Linked DNA regions of Homo sapiens. The protein of the gene in region 1 purifies or fractionates together with the protein of each later gene. This does not show direct contact. Each region holds a gene or a part of one and is shown on either strand. Other genes may lie near its edges. The genes, in order: EFTUD2, USP39, SART1, PRPF4, BCAS2, CDC5L and SF3B1.

Region 1 (3,500 bases):
GAACTTTTTGCAGACCAGCCTGAGCAAGGGGCGGATGTTCAGCTTCAGCTCCTCCTTCGTCAGGTGGATGCCAAGCTCGTCTAGGGTCCGTGGGAGGCTGGTGTCCACGTCACCTACAACCTGTGAGGGTGTAAGACACCATGTCAGCTGTAGTGAGAGCCTGAGCATGGTGCTAGAGGGAGACAAGGGAAGTCCAAAGAAATATCTGAAGAACTCCTTCACAAGGCTCTCTTCTATGGAGACAAAGCTCTTGGCAAGGACAAAAGTTTGGTTTCAGCGGCATCTCTGCTACCTACCCTTCAAACCACAGGCAAAGCCAACTTGGTTACATCCCCATCCCAGCCAATAAACCAAGCACTCAGATTGATTACTCCCAGTGCTGCCCCCTGGTGTCTGAAAAGCAGCATCTCCTCCCACTCAGAAACTCCCTCACCTATTAAACAGAAGTCTATTTACAGACTTCTCAGATTTAGAGGATCATTGTGCACTGGAAGGAACCAAAAAAGGTCACCTTGCTGTGGATCCTGTCAGGGCAGGGCCAAGCTAAATCACCCTCAGTAGACTCAAGGTCTCTACTGAGGCAGGCTCTATAAATTTTTTTTATTAATCCATTCCAGTCTGACATAAGATACTAAGTATTTTTCAGCACTAATAAATTTTAATTGCTATTTTATCTTGTTGCTAGGTTTTGCTGTTTTGTCCACCGGAATGGCCACACACATTTTGTGTATGTGTGTGTCCACTGTGCTTATTAAATACCTGCATATTTTATTACTGCCTTGGGAGAAAGGTCTGTATGAAAATTCCTATAATTTTTACCCTTTTAGTCCCATCTTTTAGGGAGTACAAATTCATATAAACGTCATGCTATATTCCCTTTTTTAGAGACAGGGTCTCACTCTGTCACCCAGCCTGGAGTGCAGTGGTGTGATCACGGCTCACTGCAACCTCCACCTCCTGGGCTCAAGTGATCCTCCTGCCTCAGCCCCCCAAGTAGTTGGGACCACAGGCACACACCACTACAACAGCTAATTCTATTTTGTGCGGAGATAAAGGGTTTAGCCATGTTGTCCAAGCTGGTCTTGAACTCCTGATCTCAAGCGATCTGCCCACTGGGACCTCCCAAAGTGCTGGAATTACAGGCGTGAGCAACCACATCCGGCCACGTTATATTCTTTGCTTCTCAGCATTCCACATGCTTAATTAAATCCTTACCATCTCCTGACAAATGATTTCAATCTGACAAGCATCACATATTGTGCAAACAGTTAAGAAAGCAAAGTTCATACGAACATGCTTTGTTTTGTTTTTTTCTGAGACAGGGTCTCACTCCATCACTCAGGCTGGAATGCAGTGGTGTGTGATCATGGATCACTGCAGCTTTGACCACCAGGGTTCAAGCAATCCTCTGGCCTCAGCCTCCTGAGTAGCTGGGACCACAAGTGCACACCACCAGTCCCAGTTGATTTATTTTATTTTTTTTGAGACGGAGTCTTGCTCTGTCACCCAGGCTGGAGTGCAGTGGCACAATCTCAGCTCACTGCAGCCTCTGCCTCAAGAGTAGCTGGGATTACAAGCATGAGCCACCACGCCTGGCTAATTTTTGTATTTTTAGTAGAAATGGGGTCTTGCCATGTTGCCCAGGCTGGTCTTGAACTCCTGGACTCAAGTGATCCTCCCGCCTTGGCCTCCCAAAGCGTCTGGATTACAGGCCTGAGCCACTGTGCCCAGCTCAGACATACTTTAAGTGGTTGCAAAGCGGTTCATTTTATGGGATGTACCATCACTCATTTAATCAGATTAATGAGCATAACTGACAAACATTTAACTTATTTCCAGTTTTTTCCCTTTTCCTGATGTTACAAACAATGCTATAAGCTGAGGTGGTGGACTCCTGCCTGTAAGCCCAGCACTTTGGGAGGCCAAGGCAGGAGGATCACTTGAGGCTACAAGTTTGAGACCAGCTTGGGGATAATGGCAAGACCCTGTCTCTACACAAAATTTTTTAAAAGTTAGCCAGGCATGGTAGCTTGCACCTGCAGTCCCAGCTTCTCAGGAGGCTGAGGTGGGAGGATTGCTCAAACCTAGGAGTTTGAAGCTGCAGTGAGCTATGATCGTGCTATTGCACTCCCACCTGGGCGACAGAGTGGGACCCTATCTCTAAAAATGCTATAATAAACACTTTGACTTATATGAATAAGCAGGAGGACTTTCACAATTATATCTGTAAGTTAAATTTCCGTAACTGAAATGATTAGTTCTAAGTGTCACATTCTTCTCAATAGTCAAGATCTGTTCATAAACCTGCTCTAGGAGAAGTCTTTTCTTTCATACCTTTTCCCTTTCCTTTGATTTTTTTTTTTTTTTTTTTGGTGACAGAGTCTCGCTCTGTCGCCCAGGCTGGAGTGCAGTGGTGCAATCTCGGCTCACTGCAACCTCTGCCTCCTGAGTTCAAGCAATTCTCTTGCCTTAGCCTCCCGAGTAGCTGGGACTACAGGCGCCCGCCACCATGCCCAGCTAATTTTTTGTATTTTGGTGGAGACGGGGTTTCATCGTGTTGCCTAGGCTGGTCTCAAGCTCCTGAGCTCAGGCAATCTGCCCACCTCGGCCTCCCAAAGTGCTAGGATTACAGGCATGAGCCACCATGCCCGGGCCCCTTTCCTTTGATTTTAATAACACTTAGAGTAATGTAGTGTTCTGGATCCAGAAGATTACTTCTGGAACAATTAGTGACCAACAACCACCCTTATACTTGACATAAAACTGAGCAGGTTTAGGGACAGAGGGAAGTGTGAGTTCACCAGCTCTTCCACACTGTGCTTATAAGAGCAGATCTGCCCAGTGTGACCTGACACACTCACCTGGGCGAGGATCTTATAAAGAGGCTCCAAGATAAACTCCACGAAACTTCTCTGGGAGCTGCTAGTTGGGGCCTTTTTGGTGAACTTTCGCCTAAAAGGAAAAATAAGTTCTGAGTGACCCAGGGGAAAAGGCACTATCACTGATCCCAAGAGGCATTGTCTAAGTGCTGAATCTGAACAACAGCCCAGGGGAGGAATGTGTGTGTGACTGTAAAGTTTCCAGAGACAGATTCCTGGAAGGATACATGGTTATGACCCTCCTGGATGCCTGAGCTGGGCTGTAAAGACTTCAGGAGAAACAGCTTCTCACCAGATCAGAGCTTAGGAAGCCAACCCATTTAGGGGAGGAAAGACGGTAGTTTACATTAAAAAAAAAAAAAAAAGTAGGTATTTAATCTTTGAACTCAGAGAATTTCACTGTCCTCACTTACTGGGTAAATGATCACCCCTCTGGAAAGTCACGTCCCATACTCTACTTACGTCTTAGGGTTGAAGTAGATGTCACCCCAGAGTCTTTTAGCAAATTCTTGGTAATTAATGTCACCTATGGGAGAAGCCACACAATTATAATCTACCTAGCAAAGTGTCGTTCAAAATTCTGTTTCAGGTGCCACAGGTGGTTCATAGCTGAGAACTTCT
Region 2 (3,500 bases), on another chromosome or scaffold:
TTTTCAGAAAAAAATGGAATAAAAAAAGTCCTTTGAGCTAAAGAATATTCCAAAAAAAAAAAAAAAATTGTAGCCTGGGTAACATAATAAGGCCTTGTCTCCACAAAAAAATAAAATAAAATAATTAGCCAGACAGCAGGGTGCAATGGCTCACATCTATAATCCCAGCACTTTGGGAGGTACAGGCAAGCACACTGCTTGAGCTCAGGAATTTCAAGACTAGCCTGGGCAACAGAGTACAATCCCATCTTTTAAAAAAATGTGGCCGTGCACGGTGGCTCATGCCTGTAATCCCAGCACTTTGGGAGGCTGAGGAGTATGGATCACTTAAAGTCAGGAGTTCAAGACCAGTGTGGCCAATATGGTGAAACCCCCTCTCTACTAAAAAATACTAAAATTAGCCGGGTGTGATGGTGCATGCCTGTAATCCCAGCTACTCAGGAGGCTGAGGCAGGAGAATCACTTGAACCTGGGAGTCAAGAGGCTGCAGTGAGCCAAGATCACGTCACTGCACTGCAGCCTGGGTGACAGAGTGAGACTCCATCTCTTAAAAAAAAAAAAAATTAGGCCGGGCGCGGTGGCTCACGCCTGTAATCCCAGCACTGTGGGAGGCCAAGACAGGTGGATCACCTGCGGCCAGGAGTTCAAGACCAACCTGGCCAACATGGTGAAACCCCGTTTCTACTAAAAATACAAAAATTAGCCAGGCATGGTGGCAGGCGCCTGTAATCTCAGCTACTCTGGAGGCTGAGGCAGGACAATTGCTTGAACCCAGGAGGCGGAGGTTGCAGTGAGCCAACCTGGGCAACACTGTCTCAAAATAATTTTAAAAAAGTAAAAATTAAAAAAATACATATATTAGAGATTCGAGAACCCAGAGTCTTTAAGATTACAGTCTTTCATATGACTAGCTCTTTCTCCCTTACAGACATATCCAGGTTCTGACCAGTCAGAGAACCTCTTATTGGTTTTCTAAGAATATTTCAATTTCCTGGGAACAAATAGAAATTATTAGATATGATTCCTGAGAACAGCTTACTTTCTTTAAAAAAAAAAAAAAAGTCCCTCTGGAGCAGATCTGCAGTTAGCTCTAACAACTTATTTACCTTGAAAGTACTTGCCACACACCAGACAGGCATAAGCATTGATGTGTGAGAGGGAGATAGAACACAGTTTCTCAAAGTCAAAGTCCAGCACACTCCTAAGGAAACAAAACAGAAAAAAATAAATAGGATGGACATGTAGGAAGGCACGCAAATGAAGCAGTGCTGGCTCTGTGACCCATGATACCACATAACATCCTTCAGAAAACAGTTCACAACCATATATACACCATGGGGGACACTGATTATTCCTCACCTCCACCCGCCATGCTCCAAAGCACTGTTGAGGTGTCTCCACCAGACACATAATACCCACGAGCCTCTTTCTCATTAGTGTTTGTAACCAGTTCAGGACTTTCCATTGCAGTCACTTTCTCTAGAGAGAAAGCTACAAGTTAGACTAAGGTAACAGTACCCCAGCAGCATTCTGGAGGTGGAGAGGACATAAAAAGGGTGAATAAATCCTTGCATAAAAGAAAAACATATCACTTAAGCCCAGGAGTTTGTGACTAATGAGCTCTGATCCACCACTGCACTCCAGACTGGGATACAGAGTGGGATCCTCTCTTAAAAACAAATAATAATAATAATTAATTACAAAATAAAAATGTATTTTTATCCATAAAAACAAATAGCCTGAAGAATTTCAGAATACCTATAAACAGACCTATTTATTCAAGTGCAAAGTGAGTACTGGCAGTAAGGAACAAAAACCTTATCTCCACTGAATCCACAAAGAGATTTATTCTCAAATAGTAACTCTTAATTAACCGATAATAATCCCAAAGAGCTATGCTGTCTAATTTATTAGAGGCCACTAGACAAAGTGGCTATTGACAATTAAATTTAAAATACAGCTGTCCCTCAGTAGCCACAGGACACTGGTTCTAGGACCCCTTCAAATACCAAAATCCACAATGTTCAAGCCCCTTACAGCTGGCCCTTTGTACCTTCAGGTTCCATATCCTGATACTGAGGCTGACTGTAATTCAATTAAATAAAATTTAAAATTCAGTTCTTCAACTGCAGGAGCCACTGAAGCCACAGGTGGCTCATGCCTACCATAATGAACAGCCCTTATAACTTTTTTGGTTTTTTTTTTTTGAGATAGGGTCTCACTTTGTCATCCAGGCTGGAGTACAGTGGCGCAATCTCAGCTCACTGCAGCCTCAACCTCCTAGGTTCAAGCAATCCTCCTGCTTCAGCCCCCCAAGAAGCTGGGACTACAGGAGTGCACCACCACACCTGGCTAATTTTTTTATTTTTTGTAGAGCTGAAGTTTTGCCATGCTGCCCAGGATGCTCAAACTCCTGAGCTCAAGCAATCTGCCTGCCTCAGCCTCCCAAAGTGCTGGGATTACAGGCATGAGCCAGAGCACCCGGCCATAACTTTTTTTTTAAGTTTTTTTAAAAGATGGGTCTCGTTGGCTGGGCGTGGTGGCTCATGCCTGTAATCCCAGCACTTTGGGAGGCCAAGGCAGGTGGATCTCCTGAGTTCAGGAGTTTGAGGTCAGCCTGGCCAACATGATGAAACCCCGTCTCTTCTAAAAAAAATACAAAAATTAGCTGGGCGTGGTGGCGGGCACCTGTAATCCCAGCTACTCAGGAAGCTGAGGCAGGATAATCACTTGAACCTGGAAGGCGAAGGTTGCAGTAAGCCAAGATCGCGCCATTGCACTCCAGCCTGGGGGACAAAAATGAAACTCCATCTCAAAAAAAAAAAGATGGGTCTCATTATGTTGACCAGGCTGGTCTCAAATTTCTGGCCTCAAGGGATCCTCCTGCCTTGGCCTGCCAAAGGGCTGAGTAAAGGCGTGGGCCACCACACCCAGCTCTTACAAGAGTAATTATATTATTGTAAAACATTCCCCTACAATATAGGTTGAAAAACATTCTACATGCCACCTGGGAATCAGAGAAAAGAATGCTATGATGAGGTAAACTACCTCAGCTTTCAAACAAATTTCTGTGTTTTTTTTCTGCTGAATCCCAGGCACCCAAAATAGTATCCAGCACATACTAGATACTCCATAAACATTTCAATGTGCTACTGTTATTTTAGGATACTATGCATCCTGTTATCCCAACATACAAATGCAAAATAAGCTCTTTAACAACATGTGTTCTGACACTTTAAATCAAAGAATAAGGAGTAACATGGCAAGAAGCACAACTCTCTAGACAGGTTCAAAAAAAGTAAAGTTTGTCAATGTGTTGTTCACTGTACAGTCCAAAAACTTTCTGCACAGATTCCATTGTTCTTGTGCTATACTCAGCATCTCTGTCCTACTGACCTGTTAATGGTGTCCAGGTACGGGCAGTGGCGGCTCCTCCGGTCCTCAGAATCCACTCGGCCATTCTTTGCTGAAAGGAAAATCATCACAGGCTTTGAAAATGG
Region 3 (3,500 bases), on another chromosome or scaffold:
CACCGTGCCCAGCCCTCTATTCTGTTTAAAGTCATGTTTTGCAAAAATTTTTAGATGCCTGCTTTAGTAGGGGATCCTTTCCTTGCCTCTCTCTTCTGTGCATGTTTGTTGAATGCCTGCTGTGAGTAGTGCATTGTTCTTGGGCTGAGAAGGTCATTGGTGAACAGGATAGCCATGGGGCCCTGGGCTCATGGAGCTGGCTTTCTAGAGTGTGTGGGGGAGAGCGTGGGGAGCAGCAGTGACTGTTAATGCAGGAACGGTAATTTCTGATGGTGGTGGGAGCTGGGCACTCAGTAAACCAAGATAACGTGCCGGGGGTTGGGATCTTAGATGGGAGAGTGCAGGGAAGACCTTTCCAAGGTACTAGTTCATCTGAGACTTGAGTCACACAGAGGAGCCAGCCTTGCGGGGGGTTAGGGGTGGCAGCAGGTGGACAGGCTGGCATTTAGGCAGTAGACCAACCAGCAGGTGTCTCAGGAGAAGTGACCTTAGAGTGCCTGAGGGCCAGGGAGGCTGGAGCAGAGCAGAGAGTGAGGGGTGGCGTGAGCTGAGATGGAGAGGTAGGGGGCCAACGCAGGGGGAGCCTTGACCCCATGGTCGTCGCTGCCCCAGAGGCACAGTGGGCCGGGCACTGCTCACATGTTCTGTGTTTGTTGATTCATTCCATCCTCCCAGCAACACCCTATGAGGAAGGTTCTGTCATCTCCATCATTCCAGAGGCCACACTTTTAGCCCTACCCCACACTTCTCACCTAGGAAGAAGCCAAGAAAGCGTGTCCAGGAGAGGGAGCAAGGGAGGGAAGCTTCTGATACTACTGGGAGGCAAAGTGGGGACAGTTGCAGTGGATTCAGGACCCGGAGGACAGGGGAGTTGAAAAAGTGAGGGCTGAACCCGGGACGGAGGCCAGGCTTACTGTTGAAGGGCTGGAGAGGACGTATTTGAGGTTTAAGGGCATATGGTCTCTGTTAGGCACCTTGAATGCTGTGCTGTTATAGGGAAAACAGCCAAGACAGTCTGTAAGTGAGTGGGCGTGGCTGGGTTCCAGTAATACTTTATTTCTAAGAACAGGTGTTGGGACATAGTTTGCCCGGCTAAAAAGGAACAGAGAAATGGAGCAATAGGCTGACAGGGCTGTTTTATGACTGAAATGAACATAAGGGTTTCTAGCCCCGTGGATCTCAGCCTGCCTGCACATTAGACTCACCTAGGAGGTTGTTTTTGTTGTTGTTTTAAGAAACAAGGTCTCGCTCGGTTGCCCAGGCTGGAGTGCAGTAGTGCAATCATAGTTCACTGCAGCCTTGAACTCCTGGGCTCAAGGGATCCTCCTGCCTCAGGCTCTCAAGTAGCTGAGACTACAGGCGTGCGCCTGTGGGTCTCAGTGTGTTGCCCGGGCTGGTCTCAAATTCCTGAGCTCAAACGATCCTCTCGCCTCCACCTCCCAAAGTGCTGGGGTTACAGGCATGAGCCACCAGGCCTGGTGTAGCCTAGAAAGTTTTTGTTGTTGTTTGAGACGGAGTCTCGCTCTGTCACCAGGCTGGAGTGCAGTGGCGCGATCTCGGCTCACTGCAACCTCCATGTCCCGGGCTCAAGCAATTCTCCTGCCTCAGCCTCCTGAGTAGCTGGAACTACAGGTGCATGCCACCACGCCCAGCTGATTTTTGTATTTTTTAGAAGAAACAGGGTTTCACCGTGTTGGTCAGGCTGGTCTCAAACTCCTCACCTTGTGATCCACCCTCCTCAGCCTCCCAAAGTGCTGGAATTAGAGGCATGAACCACCACACCCGGCCACCTAGAAGGTTTTTTAAACATATGAGCCACACCCCACACACTGTGCAGGCAAAAAAGTGGAAAGCCTATCACAGTGAACACCTTTGTCCTCTAGAGTCAGTAATTATAAACATTGTTACAGTTCTTTTCTTTCTCTTCTTTTTTTCCTGACCACTGGGAGTTGCAGATATCATGACACTGCATCCTTAACGACTTCAGTAGGCATCTGGCGAAATCAGGGCCTTCTCCCGCATAGCCACACTGCCCTAACAAGCCCATAAATGCTGTAAAACAGCAGCTCGCATGCCAACATTTTCCAGTTATCCCCCAAAATGTCTTTTTAGTTTTTTGTTGTAAGCAGCATCCAATCAAGTTTCCCACCCGCAAAGGAGCCTTTTCTGACTACCGGAGATTCTAGAGTATGTGGGAGACACATTTATGACGGAAGAAGAAAAAGATCTCGGCAGGCGGTGCTGGGGCCTAGAGTGCAAGTGGAGGGTGGGCTTGAGTGAAGCCAGCTCGTGTCATCATTTATTTCAGGAGGGAAGGTGGGGAGGGCACAGCAGCTGTGGGTGACCTTGTTTAGGGGAAGTCAAGGCAGCCCATGGCCGATTGTTCTGGTGTTTTTCCAGTGAAGAGGTGGCAGAGGTGGTGGTGCAAAGAGATGGGAGATGCTGTTCTGGAGAGTGGAGAGCAGATACACCCTGGGAGAAGAGCAGGCCTGCCAGTGGCAGTGTGGATGGTGGGATTCATGAGCTGAGGAGGGGGATGGTGGAATTCATGAGCTGCTGAGGGAGGGGGATGGTGGGATTCATGAGCTGAGGAGGGGGATGGTGGGATTCATGAGCTGAGGAGGGGGATGGTGGGATTCATGAGCTGCTGAGGAGGGGGATGGTGGGATTCAGGAGCTGAGGAGGGGGATGGTGGGATTCATGAGCTGAGGAGGGGGATGGTGGGATTCATGAGCTGAGGAGGGGGATGGTGGGATTCATGAGCTGCTGAGGAGGGGGATGGTGGGATTCATGAGGTGCTGAGGAGGGGGGTGGTGGGATTCAGGAGCTGAGGAGGGGGATGGTGGGATTCATGAGCTGAGGAGGGGGATGGTGGGATTCATGAGCTGCTGAGGAGGGGGATGGGATTCATGAGCTGCTGAGGAGGGGGATGGTGGGATTCAGAAGCTGAGGAGGGGGATGGTGGGATTCATGAGCTGCTGAGGAGGGGGATGGTGGGATTCATGAGCTGAGGAGGGGGATGGTGGGATTCATGAGCTGAGGAGGGGGATGGTGGGATTCATGAGCTGCTGAGGAGGGGGATGGTGGGATTCAGGAGCTGCTGAGGAGGGGGATGGTGGGATTCATGAGCTGAGGAGGGGGATGGTGGGATTCATGAGCTGCTGAGGAGGGGGATGGTGGGATTCATGAGCTGCTGAGGAGGGGGATGGTGGGATTCATGAGCTGCTGAGGAGGGGGATGGTGGGATTCATGAGCTGAGGAGGGGGATGGTGGGATTCATGAGCTGAGGAGGGGGATGGTGGGATTCATGAGCTGAGGAGGGGGATGGTGGGATTCATGAGCTGCTGAAGAGGGGGATGGTGGGATTCAGGAGCTGCTGAGGAGGGGGATGGTGGGATTCAGGAGCTGAGGAGGGGGATGGTGGGATTAATGCCCTGAAGCAGTGGATGGTGGGATTGAGGATTGGGTTTTCTAGGGAGGAGGGACAAGGCAGTTAAGGG
Region 4 (3,500 bases), on another chromosome or scaffold:
GATGTTCTGTACTCTTACTTGCTGGTCTCAGCCAAAGTGTGTGTTTATATAGGCACAAAGTTAATAAATGAAACAAGAGGTGGCTTGAACCATTTTCTTGCCTTTTGAAGCTGTGTCATTTAGGTTTATGTGTTTGGCATAATTTAATAAACTGAAAAACAGTAAACTATAAAATGTGTAATAGACAGTTACTTTTCCCTCAGGGCATACACAGACTGCAATTACTAGAAATTATTTCTCTCTATTTGAAGAAGATCTGCTGATGTTGCCTGTTTTCTTTTTAATAGGAGAAGTGTTTGAAATTGAAGAGCATATCAGCGAGCGACAGGCAGAAGTATTGGCTGAGTTTGAGAGAAGGAAGCGAGCCCGGCAGATCAATGTTTCCACAGATGACTCAGAGGTCAAAGCTTGCCTTAGAGCCTTGGGGGAACCCATCACACTTTTTGGAGAGGGTCCTGCTGAAAGAAGAGAAAGGTTGCCTTTCTAAATATTTACTTTTTTTCTTTATTATAATCACAGGGTTCTACTCCAAATTTTGGTTGATCATTTAGTTGAACTTTAATAGAATGTCTCAAATCATGTTAACAATATCTTACTGTGTTTATATGAGTTAGCCCATAATCTGTCTTAGGCCAATTTTTACCGCACTATTAATGTTTCTTTTTTGTGTTTGTTCGTTTTTGTTTTGTTTTGTTTTGTTTTGTTTTGTTTTGTTTTGTGTTTTGAGACAGAGTCTTGCTCTGTCACCCAGGCTTGAGTGCAGCGTCGTGATCTCGGCTCACTGCAGCCTCCGCCTCCCGGGTTCAAGCGATTTTCCTGCCTCAGCCTCCCAAGTGGCTGGGATTACAGGCACCTGCCACCACATTTTTCTTTTTTGTATTTTTAGTTATTTTTTATATTTTTGTATTTTTAGTAGAGACAGGGTTTCACCATGTTGGCCAGGCTGGTCTTGAACTCCTAACCTCAAATGATTTACCCACCTTGGCCTCCCAAAGTGCTGGGATTACAAGCGTGAGCCTTCGTGCCTGGCCCGTTTTTCTTTATAGACTTGGAAGAGGGTGCTAACATGCTCCCTTGCCTCCCCTCCCCAGTGCGAGTTTTGAATTGGATAAACATTTGTTGTTGGGCTTTGAAAATTGAGACATCAAATGCATTCCATATCAATGACATAGAACAATGATAAATGTTTCTTGGATTTTATTGAAGAGGGGTACCATCCTCAGATAATGCCCTCTTGTTATTTGCAGGTTGCGAAGTCTTAGTTGTGGTCTAGTCACACACAATTATGAGGAGCCCCTCTGGTCTCTCTGTCCACTGTCTCATCTACCCTTCATCATCCAGCTTGTTGGAAGGGTTTTTTCTATTACTCCCTTGAGGTCCTTACCCTTATTTACTCTTCAACCTGCTGCAAACTGACCAACCCCTACCACATTAAAATTGCTCTTTGTTAAGATCACCAATCCACCTTTACTAAGAATAGCCCTAGTATACTGCCAGCCACTCCTCCTTGAAATACTCCCTCCTTGAACTACTCCCTTTCCTTCACTCTCCTAATAACAAATCCTCTTGATTTTCCTCTTCTCTCACTAGCTAATTCTTCTCACTTACCTTCTAAACCTCTTTTTCTCTGCCTGCCCTTTACAGGCTGCCTTTTTCTCTACTTGCCCTTGGTGATCAGCTCTACTCCCATGGCATCATTCACTGTGTGTTCTGATGATTCCCAAATCTCTCACTGCAGCTTAGGTATCCCACAGGTACTTCAAACTTGAGACATCTGAATTGAAATATTTCCCCACCTCTCTCCTATACTCATACAATTCTTAGTTGAAAATCTGCCTAGCCTCCTTTATAATCCATTAGCAAAATCTGGTCTGTTCTACTTGCGAGATACAACTCCAGCTATCTTCTTTGCTCTATCTTTACTGCTTTCAAATCTGCACTGTTGTGATAGCCCCAAACATGTTGTGTTAATTGCTTGCTTAAAATCCTAGATTGTCTTCTCATACTTGGAGTAAAAAACTCTTACCATGGTCTGTAAGGTCTTCAGCCTTACTCATGTCTCCCTTCCCCAATTTACTAGAATAGCCACATTGGTCCTTATGGAATATGCTAGTTCTTTTTATGTCTTTCCACATAATTGGTCTACTTTTATTCTTCTGTCTTGTCTTTTAGAGGCTTTTTTTCTTCCTTTTTTTTTCTTTGAAACGGAGTCTCGCTCTGTCACCCAGGGTGGAGTGCGGTGGTGCAATCTCAGCTCACTGCAACCTCCACCTCCCAGGTACAAGCCATTCTCCTGCCTCAGCCTCCCAAGTAGCTGGGACTACAGGCATGTGCCACCATGCCTGGCTAATTTCTGTATTTTTAGTAGAGACGGGGTTTCAACACGTTGGCCAGGTGTTGAACACCTCCTCAAGTGATCCTCTCAACACCTCCTCAAGTGATCCGCCTGCCTGGGCCTCCCAAAGTGCTGGGATTACAGATGTGAGCTACCGCGCCCGGCCTTTCTTCTTCATTTTTTATTAACCTGGATCCCTGTCAAACTTCTTATTCTTTCGTTTCAGCATAGATGCCACCTATTCAAAGAAGCCTTTCGTCACACCTAACCCCTCTGTTCTCTGTCATAGTATGTTATTTTATTAGCCTTTTCAAAGGGTATACTTTTTTATTATTGTTTAGTTTGTTTTTTCCACCAGCAAAGTCTATCTTATTCATTATTATGTTCCTTAAATGAATCCTTTGAGTCACTACTGCTACTATCTGAATTTCAGTCCACGGTTGTGACTCAGAGCGTCACTACAACAGTACTGTCTGATTTCCCTGCCATTATTCTTCCCTTTTAATCCATTCTTTGTACTGTTTCAGGGATCTTTCTCATCTGTAAATCCTCCTGAGCGTGGCATTAGCAATTCTTTGTGACCTGGCTCCTCCTTGCATTTGCAGCCCTATTCTTCACCAGTCCTCTTCTATGTTCTACGCTCCAGCCATATTGAATTATTTGTGACTGCAAGCTCAACATGTTTTTCTTACCTCCAGGCCTTATTTGTTTAACCCTCTGCCTGACATTTTCTCATTCTTGACCCCCTTGACCTGATTAACTGAGGACTCAATTTACATATTACCTTTTTTTAATGAAGCCTTCCCTGATCCTCTAAGCTTAGTTAGATGCCCGTTACAAAGTCCCCTCTAGCCCTCTGTGCTTACTGCTATAGTGATAGGTAATATAATGGATTATAGTTTGCCAGTACTCTCTGTTGTTTCCCCAGGACTAAGCTACTTGAAATCAAGAACTGATTCCTAGTCATCACTGTATAGTTAGCACCTGAGTCAGTATCCAGTACATTGTGGCACTGAGTGAAAGTTGGCAGTCTTCACAGACCAAGTGGTAGCAGTGTAGGGGCTCATTGACTCTAAACTGTATAGAGTAATTGCTTATAGTTGAATTTTGGAAATTTCCAAATAGAGAAGACTGAGTGGGAGAAACCACACTGGGAGTTTAGCCA
Region 5 (3,500 bases), on another chromosome or scaffold:
CCCGCCTCGGCCTCCTGAAGTGCTGGGATTACAGGTGTAAACCACCGCGCCCGGCTTTTCTTTTTCTTTTCTTTTTTTTTTTTTTTTTTTGAGATAGAGTCTCATTCTGTCGCCTAGGCTGGAGTGCAGTGGCAAAATCTTGGCTCACTACAACCTCTGCCTCCCAGGCTGAAGCAATTGTCATGCCTCAGCCTCCAGAGTAGCTGGGATTACAGGCACACGTTACCATGCCCAGCTAATTTTTTGTATTTTTTTTTTTTGTAGAAATGGGGTTTCACCATGTTGGCCAGGCTGGTCTCGAACTCCTGACCTCAAGCAATCCACCCACCTCTGCCTCCCAAAGGGCTGGGATTACTGGCATGAGCCACTGCACCCAGCACCTCCCATACTTTTAAAATGTACTAAAACTTTGGGTGAGATGGAAAGAAAAGAGAAAAAACAAAAAAAACAGAAGATGAAGAAAAAGGTTCTTACTCATTGTATACTTTCCAGGCATTACATCCATGCTGTGACATTAGTTCCAGATTCTCAATTCTAACTGCTTGATGCTCTAACTGGGCCATAGAATTGTTTACACATTCTTGCCATGCAGTAATGTCATTTTTTTGACCAGAGGAGGGGGCTGGAAGCTCATATCTGAAATTAAACAACAAAATAAAATAAAACCATCTATACTGCCAAGCCTTTACATCTCTTCTCAGTAGAATGTCCCATGAGTCTCCATATAGTATAAAAACTACAGAAGACTAAGGATGTAAACCTTGCAATAATAAGAAACCGATATATGCTAACAATCAATTTACAAATATGATTTAGCACCATTATGTTCACTTCAATGTGAACTGGTTAAATAAGCAACATTACATTCACATAAAAGATTGTTACATTAGCTATTAAATGTTACTGAAGAATATTTAATAATATTAAGATGTCAGTAATATATTAAGGGGAAAAAGCAGTAGACAAAAAAGTTTGCTACCATTTTTGTAAAATACTCACACCCACCCATCCACTAACATACCCATGCGCCGGTAGAGAAAAAAATGAGAAGCGATATGACTCCTTCTATTCTCTCTTCATACTACCCAGTCAGTCCTTCAACACTGCCTCTCTCTCTCTCTCTCTCTCTCTCTATATATATATATATATAGTTTTTTTTTCAAGACTGGGTCTCCCTCTGTCCCCAACGCTGGAGTGCAGTGGCACAATCTCGGCTTGCTGCAACCTCCATCTCCTGGGGGGTGTCAAGCGATCCACCTACCTCAGCTTTCCAAGTAGCTGGGTCCACGGGTGCGTGCCACCACACCCAGGTACGTTTATTATTATTATTATTATTATTATTAATTATTTTTGGTAGAGATGGGGTTTTGCCATGTTGCCCAGGCTGGTCTCAAACTCCTGGATTCAAGCAATCCACCAGCCTCGGCCTCCCAAAGTGCTGGAATTACAGGTGTGAGCCACCACACCCGGCCAACACTGCCAATATTAGCCAGCAAATACATTCTTCACAAATCTCAGCTCATTACTGAGTTACTACAAACTAAATTTTAATTTCCATTTTAATATTCTTACCGTTTCATACTGAGCAATTCAATTGGTTGTCGAGCAGCCAGTCTTTCAAATTCATTTCTCATTATGTCAGTCTGATGTGTAAATCAGAAAAAAGATTTCTAAGATCATGTTGACAACTAAAAATTAACAATCACCAAAGAACAGATTTAAGCTACACTACCCATTATAATGAATTGTTTACCTTTCCCTAATTCTTCTCTGAGTTAAATGCTCTCTAGAATCTGAAGCACACACACACACACTCACTCACTCACTTCACATTCAGGAAAAGTGGCATGTATTAAGGAGCCCACAGAGAAAAGGATTAATCCTAAACCAGTGGTTCTTAATTCCAGAAGCATATCAGAATCAGTTCGACAGTGCTATGGTTTGAATGTTTGTCCCCTCTGAAATTCATACAGAAACTTAATCCCCAATGTAATAGTATTAAGAGGTGGGGTCTTTAAGAGGTGATTGGGTTATGAAGGCTCAATCCATTCATGGGTTAATAAGTTATCACCAGAGTGGGTATGTTATAAAAGCCAGTTTGTCTTTCTCTTGTGTGCCCCTACCTTGCCATGTAATGCCCTGTGCTGCTTCAGGACTGTACACCAAGTCCACACCAGCAAGAAGGCCCTCACCAGATGCAGCCTGTGAACCGTACACTTTCCAGCCTCCAGAAATCCAAGAAATAATTTATTTATTTATTTATTTTTTTTTTGTGAGACGAAGTCTCGCTCTTGTCCCCCAGGCTGGAGCGCAATGGCGCGATCTTGGCTCATCTCTGCCTCCCGGGTTCAAGCGATTCTCTTGCCTCAGCCTCCCGAGTAGCTGGGATGACAGGCATCTGCCACTATGCCTGGCTAATTTTTGTATTTTTAGTAGAGACAGGGTTTCACCATGTTGGCCAGGCTGGTCTCGAACTCCTGACCTGAGGTGATCGGCCTGCCTCAGCCTCCCAAAGTGTCTTTTCTTTATATTCACTATCTTCTCTAGCAATTTTACTGTTCGCAAGTAAATGTAGTATAGCTGTTCCTCTTTAGGGCCAACGTCCTAACCCATTTCCATTCTGCACATTTCCTACCCTGAGGATAAAGAACTGCTTAAAATATTTCTTTGTAGTAATACTTCGGTTATTCCATGTAATTTTAATTTTCTGAGGGTTTCAACTATCTTAACAATTAGACTAAATAAGTATCAAAGGCCTTACAGAAGCCTGCATGAATGTTTAAAAGTTTTTATTAGGCCGGGCGAGGTGGCTCATGCCTGTAATCCCAGCACTTCGGGAGGCCGAGGTGGGTGGATCACGAGGTCAAGAGATCAAGACCATCCTGGCCAACAAGTTGAAACCTCATCTCTACTAAAAATACAAAAATTAGCTGGGCGTGATGGCACGTGCCTGTAATCCCAGATACTCGGAGGCTGAGGCAGGAGAATTGCTTGAACCTGGGAGGTGGAGGTTGCAGTGAGCTGAGATCACACCACTGCACTCCAGCCTGGCAACAGAGTGAGACTTCATCTCAAAAACAAAAAAACAAAAAAACAAAAAAACAAAAAACAAAAAACAAAAAATTTCGTATTAAGCATTTCTTTCTGCAGAAAGTATTTTGCAGGGGCTACTGCTAAATTACACACAATCTTAAGAAAATGTAGTTACCTAGTTTCCTGCAAAAAAAAAAACCAGGGCATTCTAGCTAGAAAATTCTGCAGTGACAGACAAGGAGTAAACAGCCAATTAAACACGAGGCAGTATAAAAATGCAGTATAAGTAGTCTTGAGCCATGTAGCATAGGAGGAACCCTTAACTAACTCACATGCTCAGTAAGTGATAAATCTGGAATTTTAGCTCATCTCTCTCCAAAGACTAAGCCAGTGTTCATGGAGCGGCAAGGGCAATCCCTGCTCATGGAGTAGTCTCATCTTAGCTTTGAGAGGCCTTCCTCAACCAC
Region 6 (3,500 bases), on another chromosome or scaffold:
GTTGCCCAGACTGGCCTCCAACTCCTGGGCTAAAGAGATCGACCCACCTCAACTTCCTTAGCAGCTAGCACTACAGGCACATACCACCACACCCCGTAACACTTAATTAACTTAATTAACTGAATTGAAGAAACAGAAGATGAAGGGGCGCTGTTCAGAAAAAGCAACTACTCTATAACAGAAAACACTGGACATATTTGGAAAGATACTTAGAATAAGAACACTGCTGACAGAATTGGGGATCAGGTATGGTGGCTCACACCTATAATCTCAACACTTTTGGAGGCAGAAAAGGGAGGATAGCTTAAGCCCAGGAGTTTGAGACCAGCCTGGGTAACACAGGGAGACCCCATCTCTACAAAAAAATTTAAAAATTAGCCAGGTATGGCGGCATAAACCTGTAGTCCCAACTACTCAGGAGGCTGAGATGGGAGGATTGCTTAAGCCCAGGAGGTCAAAACCGCAGTGAACCATGATTGTGCCACTTCATTCCAGCCTGGGTAACAGAGCAAGACCTTGTCTCAAAAAAAAAAGGGATTCTAAAGTAGAGGAGTTCAGAAAGGAACTAAAAGAGTGAGGCCCAAGGAGTTTACAGTTACCAAAGAAATAAATTCCTCAAAGCATACACTTACCCTCATCCATATCAATTGGATCAGGCCGCGCTGGTTTTGTTTCTGGATTTGGATCTATTTCTCCAGGTTTAAGTTTTCGTGGATCATCTGTTGTTTCCTCTTCATTGTCTCTTTGGGCAGCTTTATCCCTAGAAAAAAGCCCATAGGAGTTAGTCACACTACAGTACCATTTAGAGTTAAAATTACCAGATTTCCAAGTTCTGACGATATTTTTCCCCCCAAAAAAACCAATGGATGGGCTTTAACAACATAAAGCCTTTTTACTATCACTTCATCTGAAAGAAATGATATTAAAATTTGCTGATTTCAGTGACTGGTTTCAATCACTCTAAAATAGAACCCAAACAGATCCTAATCACAAATGCGGTACAGCCATACAAATTTAAAAAAAAAAAAAAAAAAAAAAAAACTATTAGTAAAGAACCAAAATGTTCCAGTAGTTAATTCTTAGCAGTGTGATTATGGGTGACTTTTATTTGCTCTTTTACTATTTTTTCCCCAGATTTTCTATGATGAACATGCATGACTTGTATAATTCTTTTAAATTATTATTTTAGGAAGTATATGACAGAAGGCATAATTTTGATCAACCATCTGAGATATGGAAAATATTATCCAATGGCTTTAGCTTTGGGTTTACTCACATCCATAATTAAAAGTTTAAAGACAGAAAATACTCAAAGTTTATTCAGCCTCTTTCAGAACATATACATATATTCTATGCTCTTTCTGAAGACTCACTTACAGAAGAAATTCATAGTGTTCTAAGCACTGGGCCGCTGTTCTTCCAATGATTGGAGCAATGGTCCTCCACTGAGTTGGCATCAACTTGGCCAAGTGCAAGAGTTTTTCCTCTTCTTCTCTGGACCATTCTGTCTTCTTAATGCTTGGATCCAGCCATTCATACCTATTAAACATAGATCATTTTATATATTAATCAGTTACCTGGCATAAATATCCAATTTGCACAATGGATACACTGACTTGTGCTCTCATCCTTCAATTACAAAAACTGTTCTTTTTGACAACAGAATATTTGCTGTGTGGTTACACTTACCCCAGTCAATATTCCCCATCTCATCACATTCTATTTTATTTTAATTATGCAAGATTAGTAATGGTTAAAAAAGGTTACTTCACTGAATCATGATCATAAGCCTTCTTTCTCATCTATCATGTTTTTATTTATTTACGCTTTTCTAGAAATTTTGAAATATTTGGAAGACAATACAAAATCACGTTTCTTACAGTGTTTCCAGTTTTCATACTATTTTCTCATGCTTTGATTCTCACACCATGGCTTATTTCTTTAAGCATTTGACTTACACTCACTAAATTCACCGTAACCTTTCATTTGATATGTTTTAAAATTTAAGTAAAACTACTATGACATTCCCTCTGTCTTTCCTAATTCCCCACCCAGCCCACCTTTTCCATCCAGTCTACTTAGCTGGATGACAGGCAGGCAAACAGGACTTAAGTCCTACCAAATATGACAGCAGGAACTGGTACCACTAAGACAAACAGAAATCAGAACGACTTCTTCAGCCTAAAAATCATCTTCCTCTTAACAGCCAATTTCTACATTCAAAAAGCCTCACTCTGTCGCCCAGGCTGGAGTGCAGTGGCAGCATCTCAGCTCACTACAACCTCCACCTCCTGGGTTCAACCGATCCTCCCACCTCAGCCTCCCAAGTAGCCACCACGCCTGGCTAATTTTTGTACTTTTAGAAGAGACGGGGTTTTCACCATGTTGGCCAGGCTGGTCTCAAACTCCTGACCTCAGGTGATCCCAGCCTTGGCCTCCCGAAGTGCTAGGCTTACAGATGTGAGCCACCACGCCTGGCCAATTTCTACATTCTGATACTTTCCCCTAACCAGGTGCCTAGGAAATTAGGTCATTCTTATACAATCCAAAGTATTTTCCTAATGCCACATGACTTGGGGATGGTGCTAAATAACTCATGCCAAGAACACCCTAAATAGCTTCACGTGTCCACTACCCTATGATTTAAGAGGTGACACCAGCCGGGCGCGGTGGCTCACGCCTGTAATCCCAGCACTCTGGGAGGCCGAGGTGGATGGATCACGAGGTCAGGAGATCAAGACCATCCTGGCTAACACGGCGAAACTCCGTCTCTACTAAAAATACAAAAAATTAGCCGGGAATGGTGGCAGGAGCCTGTAGTCCCAGCTACTCAGGAGGCTATGGCAGAAGAATGGCGTGAACCCGGGAGGCAAAGCTTGCAGTGAGCTGAGATCACGCCACTGCACTCCAGCCTGGGCGACAGAGCAAGACTCCGTCCCAAAAAATAAAAATAAAAAAGAGGTGACACCACAGGTTCAGAGTTGGCTTATATCTTTTAATATATATAACATATTAAATATGTTTAATATATACAATATATAACATATTAAATATGTTTAATATATAATATATAACATATTAAATATGTTTAATATATAATATATAACATATTAAATGTTTAATATATAATATATAACATATTAAATATGTTTAATATATAATATATAACATATTAAATATGTTTAATATATAATATATAACATATTAAATATGTTTAATATATAATATATAACATATTAAATATGTTTAATATATAATATATAACATATTAAATATGTTTAATATATAATATATAACATTAAGTATGTTTAATATATAATATATAACATATTAACTATAAAATATATAATATTTCAACTGTATTATGAGGAAACTCAACTACTGTAGGCTTACTTAGAAAATTAGCCATTATTTATCATTTATTTCTTTGAGCAAGTAATTTCTAAAACAGCTAACTTATGCACTTTTAGAACACAATTAATTTACAAGCTGGGGCTCAT
Region 7 (3,500 bases), on another chromosome or scaffold:
TGGGAGGCGGAGGTTGCAATGAGCCGAAATCACGCCACTGCACTTCAGCCTGGGCAACAGAGTGAGACTCCATCTTTTAAAAAAAAAAAAAAAAAAAAATTCTTTGTGTCCACTGACAATCCATAAACTTAAGTATATAAAATCTTGGTGAAGCACCAAGTAAAATAACCACAATCTCAACGAGCTTATTCCTGGGACTGCTAGAAAACTGAAGCACCAGCAGTTCTCAAAGTATAACCGATAGACCCATACACAAGTCTTTGAGATGTCTTTCAAAAAGTAATAAAAGTTTCATGTTGTTCATTTCTTTTCATCTCTATATGGAACTGAAATATACCTGGAAATAGCTAAGAGAATGGAATGACAATAGTAAATTTGGGCAAAGCCAATGCAAGCTTAATCAATTTTTTTCACTATTTAAAATAAATGTATATCCTAAATACCACCTCATTCAAATTTGATGTACTACCTTATATCCTTCTGGGAACATAGCATCTAATTCCTCATCAGAAAGTGGGCGATTTCTCTCATCAATTTCTCTTTCCCACCGCCAAGCCTGAAGCTGTTCAGGAGTCATACTCATTATGTGACCTACCAAGAAAAGCAAATTTTTATATAATCTATAGTACAAGACTGTATTATTACATACATTGAGATAAAAGACAGTTAAGATCAATCCTATTATTTGCTTTTATATTATAAACGCAAACCAAGACTTAAATTTGTATATCTCCTTATTCTTACTAGAAGTTGACATTAATAGTACACAGAATACCACAAAGGAAAAAATTAAATAATTTATGGAGAAAAAAACAATTATGTCCAATGAGACAGTTCTACCTGGAGTAGGGGTAGCCATGTTCATGGCTGGTGTGCCAATTGGTGTCTTTCCAGGGGTCAGAACTGGAGTGCTTCCACCCATCTGACTAGCTGGTGTTTCATCCCACCGTGATTTTCTTTTACTGGCTCCAGGAGTCGGTGTTTCACCAATAGAATCTCCACCTCGATCTGTTCGAGGAGTCTCAGCCCATCCACTTCCATGCCCAGGAGTATCTTTAAAAAGAAAGAGTGAGTAAAACCACAATTTTAATCACTGTTAAAATAATATTCTTTATTCTCAAACAGTTATACTCAAAACTATCAAGTTCTAAAATAGAATATTCCTAAAATGGTGACCCATTTAAAGTTGTTTGAGACCAGCCTGATCAACATGATGAAACTCTGTCTCTACTAAAAATACAAAAAGTAGCCAGGTGTGGTGGTGGGCGCTTGTAATCCCAGCTACTCAGGAGGCTGAAGCAAAAGAATCACTTGAACTGGGGAGGCAGAGGTTGCAGTCAGCCGAGAGCGCACCACTGCACTCTAGCTTGGGTGACAGAGCAAGACTCCATCTCAACAACAACAACAAAAAAAGTAAATTTGATGTTATGTACATTTTTCCATAATAAAAAACAAAGGGTAAGTCAGGCACAGTGGTTCATGCCTGTAATTCCAACACTTTGGCAGATCACTTGAAACCAGGAGTTCAACACCAGGCTGGGCAATGAAGCAAGACATTGTCTCTACAAAAAATTTAAAAATTAGCCAGGGGCCGGAAGCGGTGGCTCATGCCTGTAATCCCAGCATTTCAGAAGGCCGAGGGGGGCAGATCATCTGAGGTCGGGAGTTCGAGACCCGCCTGACCAGCATAGAGAAACCCCGTCTCTACTAAAAATACAAAATTAGCCGGGCTTGGTGGCGCATGCCTGTAATCCCAGCTACTCAGGAAGGCTGAGGCAGGAGAATCGCCTGAATCCGGGAGGTGGAGGTTGCAGTGAGCTGAGATCGCGCCATTGCATTCCAGTCTGGACAACAAGAGCAAAACTCCATCTCAAAAAAAAAAAATTAGCCAGGCATGGTGGCATGCCCCTATAGTCTCAGCTACTAAGAAGGCTGAGGTGGGAAGATCACTTGAGCCTAGGATGTCAAGGCTACAGTGAGCAAGACCCTATCTCTAAAGAAACACACAAAATCAAAGGTTACAGCCTACTAACTTTACTTTTACCTAAGGTTCTTCCTTAAATCTTAAACCACTTCAAGAAGTGGAAAAAATTAGGCATATGAACTGTTCTATTCTTAATCTGTCCCCCAAAAGCAGCTGGTTATTTATACGTGTCCACCCAGGAATAAACAGAACACATTTCAGTCTGTAAACATATCACTCAACATTTCACCCACACACCCATACTCCACTAGAAGTACCTCTCTCTGTTTTGGGGGTTTCATCCCATCTGTTTTTACGAGCACTGGAAGTTGCGCCTCCATGGCCTGGTGTCGCATGGCCTGGTGTATCACCTCGTCCAGGAGTAGCAGCTCCCGCTGGTGTGTGGCTAGGTGTAGGATCCCATATTTTTGAGCCTGGGGTTGCTCCAGGAGTCTCGCTTCCCTTTGCACGACCTGGTGTCTCATCCCATCTTAAGGAAGGAGTATGCCCAGGGGTCTTAAAAAAGCAAAAAAATTTTATTTCACACACCCACACAGAAATAATTAGAAAATTTCCATAAAATAAAAAACTTTAAACGAAAAATGTTTTAGTTCTATGCACTATAATTAATGAAAAGTTAGAAGACACTACCTCTACTTATAGGAAAAGATACCTACTTTCTAGCAAATGTTTATGATTAAAAACAATGTAAAGTTTCAATCCGAAGCACTGACAAAAGTCCCAGCTTAAAAAAACAAAATATTATCGATATGAATCTTTGATATGCCATTAATAGCTCTGTGACTGGGGGAAATCACTGAGGTTTCTCTATCTAGATCAGTAATCGAAGGCTTTCAGCTCTAATTACATTAGTACTTCTCAAAGTGGGGCTTAGAGACACATATTTAGGGGAGAAGGAATTCGTGTGTTCTAAGAAAATAGTCCTGTTGATGTTTTGTTTAATTGTGTGTGTTTAATTAATATAAACATGCTTTAGATCACCTATGTAATTTTTTTTTTTTTTTTTTTTTTGAGACAGAGTCTCGCTCTGTCACCCAGGCTGGAGTGCCGGGGCATGATCTTGGCTCACAGCAACCTCTGCCTCCCGGGTTCAAGTGATTCTCCAGCCTCAGCCTCCTGAGTAGCTGGGGTTACAGGTGCCTGCCACCACGCCGGGCTAATTTTTGTATTTTTAGTAGAAACAGGGTTTCTCCACGTTGGTCAGGCTGGTCTCGAACTCCTGACCTCGTGATCCACCCACCTTGGCCTCCCAAAGTGCTGGGATTACAGGCGTGAGCCACCGCACCAGGCCCCACCTATGTAATTATAACCAGATACCGTCACATGATTTCAATCTTGAGATCAGTTTGTATGTACAGTTACATGTGTACCAAATAATATTACCCTAGCTGATGCTGGCAAGATTAATGAAAAAAGATGAGAGGTGGATTTTCATTTGTTTTTTGACACAGGGTCTCACTCTGTCGCCCAGGTTGAGTGCAGTGGCACAATCACGGCTCACTGCAGTCTCCACCTA

The links.
Region 2: the proteins of EFTUD2 (region 1) and USP39 purify together in Homo sapiens (affinity purification with mass spectrometry; 4 studies listed by BioGRID and IntAct, with this or other methods). This does not show direct contact.
Region 3: the proteins of EFTUD2 (region 1) and SART1 purify together in Homo sapiens (affinity purification with mass spectrometry; 4 studies listed by BioGRID and IntAct, with this or other methods). This does not show direct contact.
Region 4: the proteins of EFTUD2 (region 1) and PRPF4 purify together in Homo sapiens (affinity purification with mass spectrometry; 4 studies listed by BioGRID and IntAct, with this or other methods). This does not show direct contact.
Region 5: the proteins of EFTUD2 (region 1) and BCAS2 purify together in Homo sapiens (affinity purification with mass spectrometry; 3 studies listed by BioGRID and IntAct, with this or other methods). This does not show direct contact.
Region 6: the proteins of EFTUD2 (region 1) and CDC5L purify together in Homo sapiens (affinity purification with mass spectrometry; 6 studies listed by BioGRID and IntAct, with this or other methods). This does not show direct contact.
Region 7: the proteins of EFTUD2 (region 1) and SF3B1 purify together in Homo sapiens (affinity purification with mass spectrometry; 4 studies listed by BioGRID and IntAct, with this or other methods). This does not show direct contact.

Annotation. Positions count from the first base shown.
Region 1 is NC_000017.11:44,864,946-44,868,445, forward strand, and holds part of EFTUD2 (116 kDa U5 small nuclear ribonucleoprotein component), read right to left. Parts: intron 3,406-3,500; coding exon 3,342-3,405; intron 2,953-3,341; coding exon 2,862-2,952; intron 121-2,861; coding exon 1-120. UniProt on the Homo sapiens protein: Required for pre-mRNA splicing as component of the spliceosome, including pre-catalytic, catalytic and post-catalytic spliceosomal complexes. Component of the U5 snRNP and the U4/U6-U5 tri-snRNP complex, a building block of the spliceosome.
Region 2 is NC_000002.12:85,619,186-85,622,685, reverse strand, and holds part of USP39 (ubiquitin carboxyl-terminal hydrolase 39), read right to left. Parts: intron 3,467-3,500; coding exon 3,397-3,466; intron 1,202-3,396; coding exon 1,107-1,201; intron 1-1,106.
Region 3 is NC_000011.10:65,968,234-65,971,733, forward strand, and holds part of SART1 (U4/U6.U5 tri-snRNP-associated protein 1), read left to right. Parts: intron 1-3,500. UniProt on the Homo sapiens protein: Plays a role in mRNA splicing as a component of the U4/U6-U5 tri-snRNP, one of the building blocks of the spliceosome. May also bind to DNA.
Region 4 is NC_000009.12:113,278,658-113,282,157, forward strand, and holds part of PRPF4 (U4/U6 small nuclear ribonucleoprotein Prp4), read left to right. Parts: intron 1-287; coding exon 288-474; intron 475-3,500. UniProt on the Homo sapiens protein: Plays a role in pre-mRNA splicing as component of the U4/U6-U5 tri-snRNP complex that is involved in spliceosome assembly, and as component of the precatalytic spliceosome (spliceosome B complex).
Region 5 is NC_000001.11:114,575,116-114,578,615, forward strand, and holds part of BCAS2 (pre-mRNA-splicing factor SPF27), read right to left. Parts: intron 1,644-3,500; coding exon 1,573-1,643; intron 637-1,572; coding exon 475-636; intron 1-474. UniProt on the Homo sapiens protein: Required for pre-mRNA splicing as component of the activated spliceosome. Component of the PRP19-CDC5L complex that forms an integral part of the spliceosome and is required for activating pre-mRNA splicing.
Region 6 is NC_000006.12:44,390,706-44,394,205, reverse strand, and holds part of CDC5L (cell division cycle 5-like protein), read right to left. Parts: intron 1,540-3,500; coding exon 1,378-1,539; intron 761-1,377; coding exon 633-760; intron 1-632.
Region 7 is NC_000002.12:197,407,529-197,411,028, forward strand, and holds part of SF3B1 (splicing factor 3B subunit 1), read right to left. Parts: intron 2,480-3,500; coding exon 2,242-2,479; intron 1,054-2,241; coding exon 841-1,053; intron 592-840; coding exon 470-591; intron 1-469. UniProt on the Homo sapiens protein: Component of the 17S U2 SnRNP complex of the spliceosome, a large ribonucleoprotein complex that removes introns from transcribed pre-mRNAs.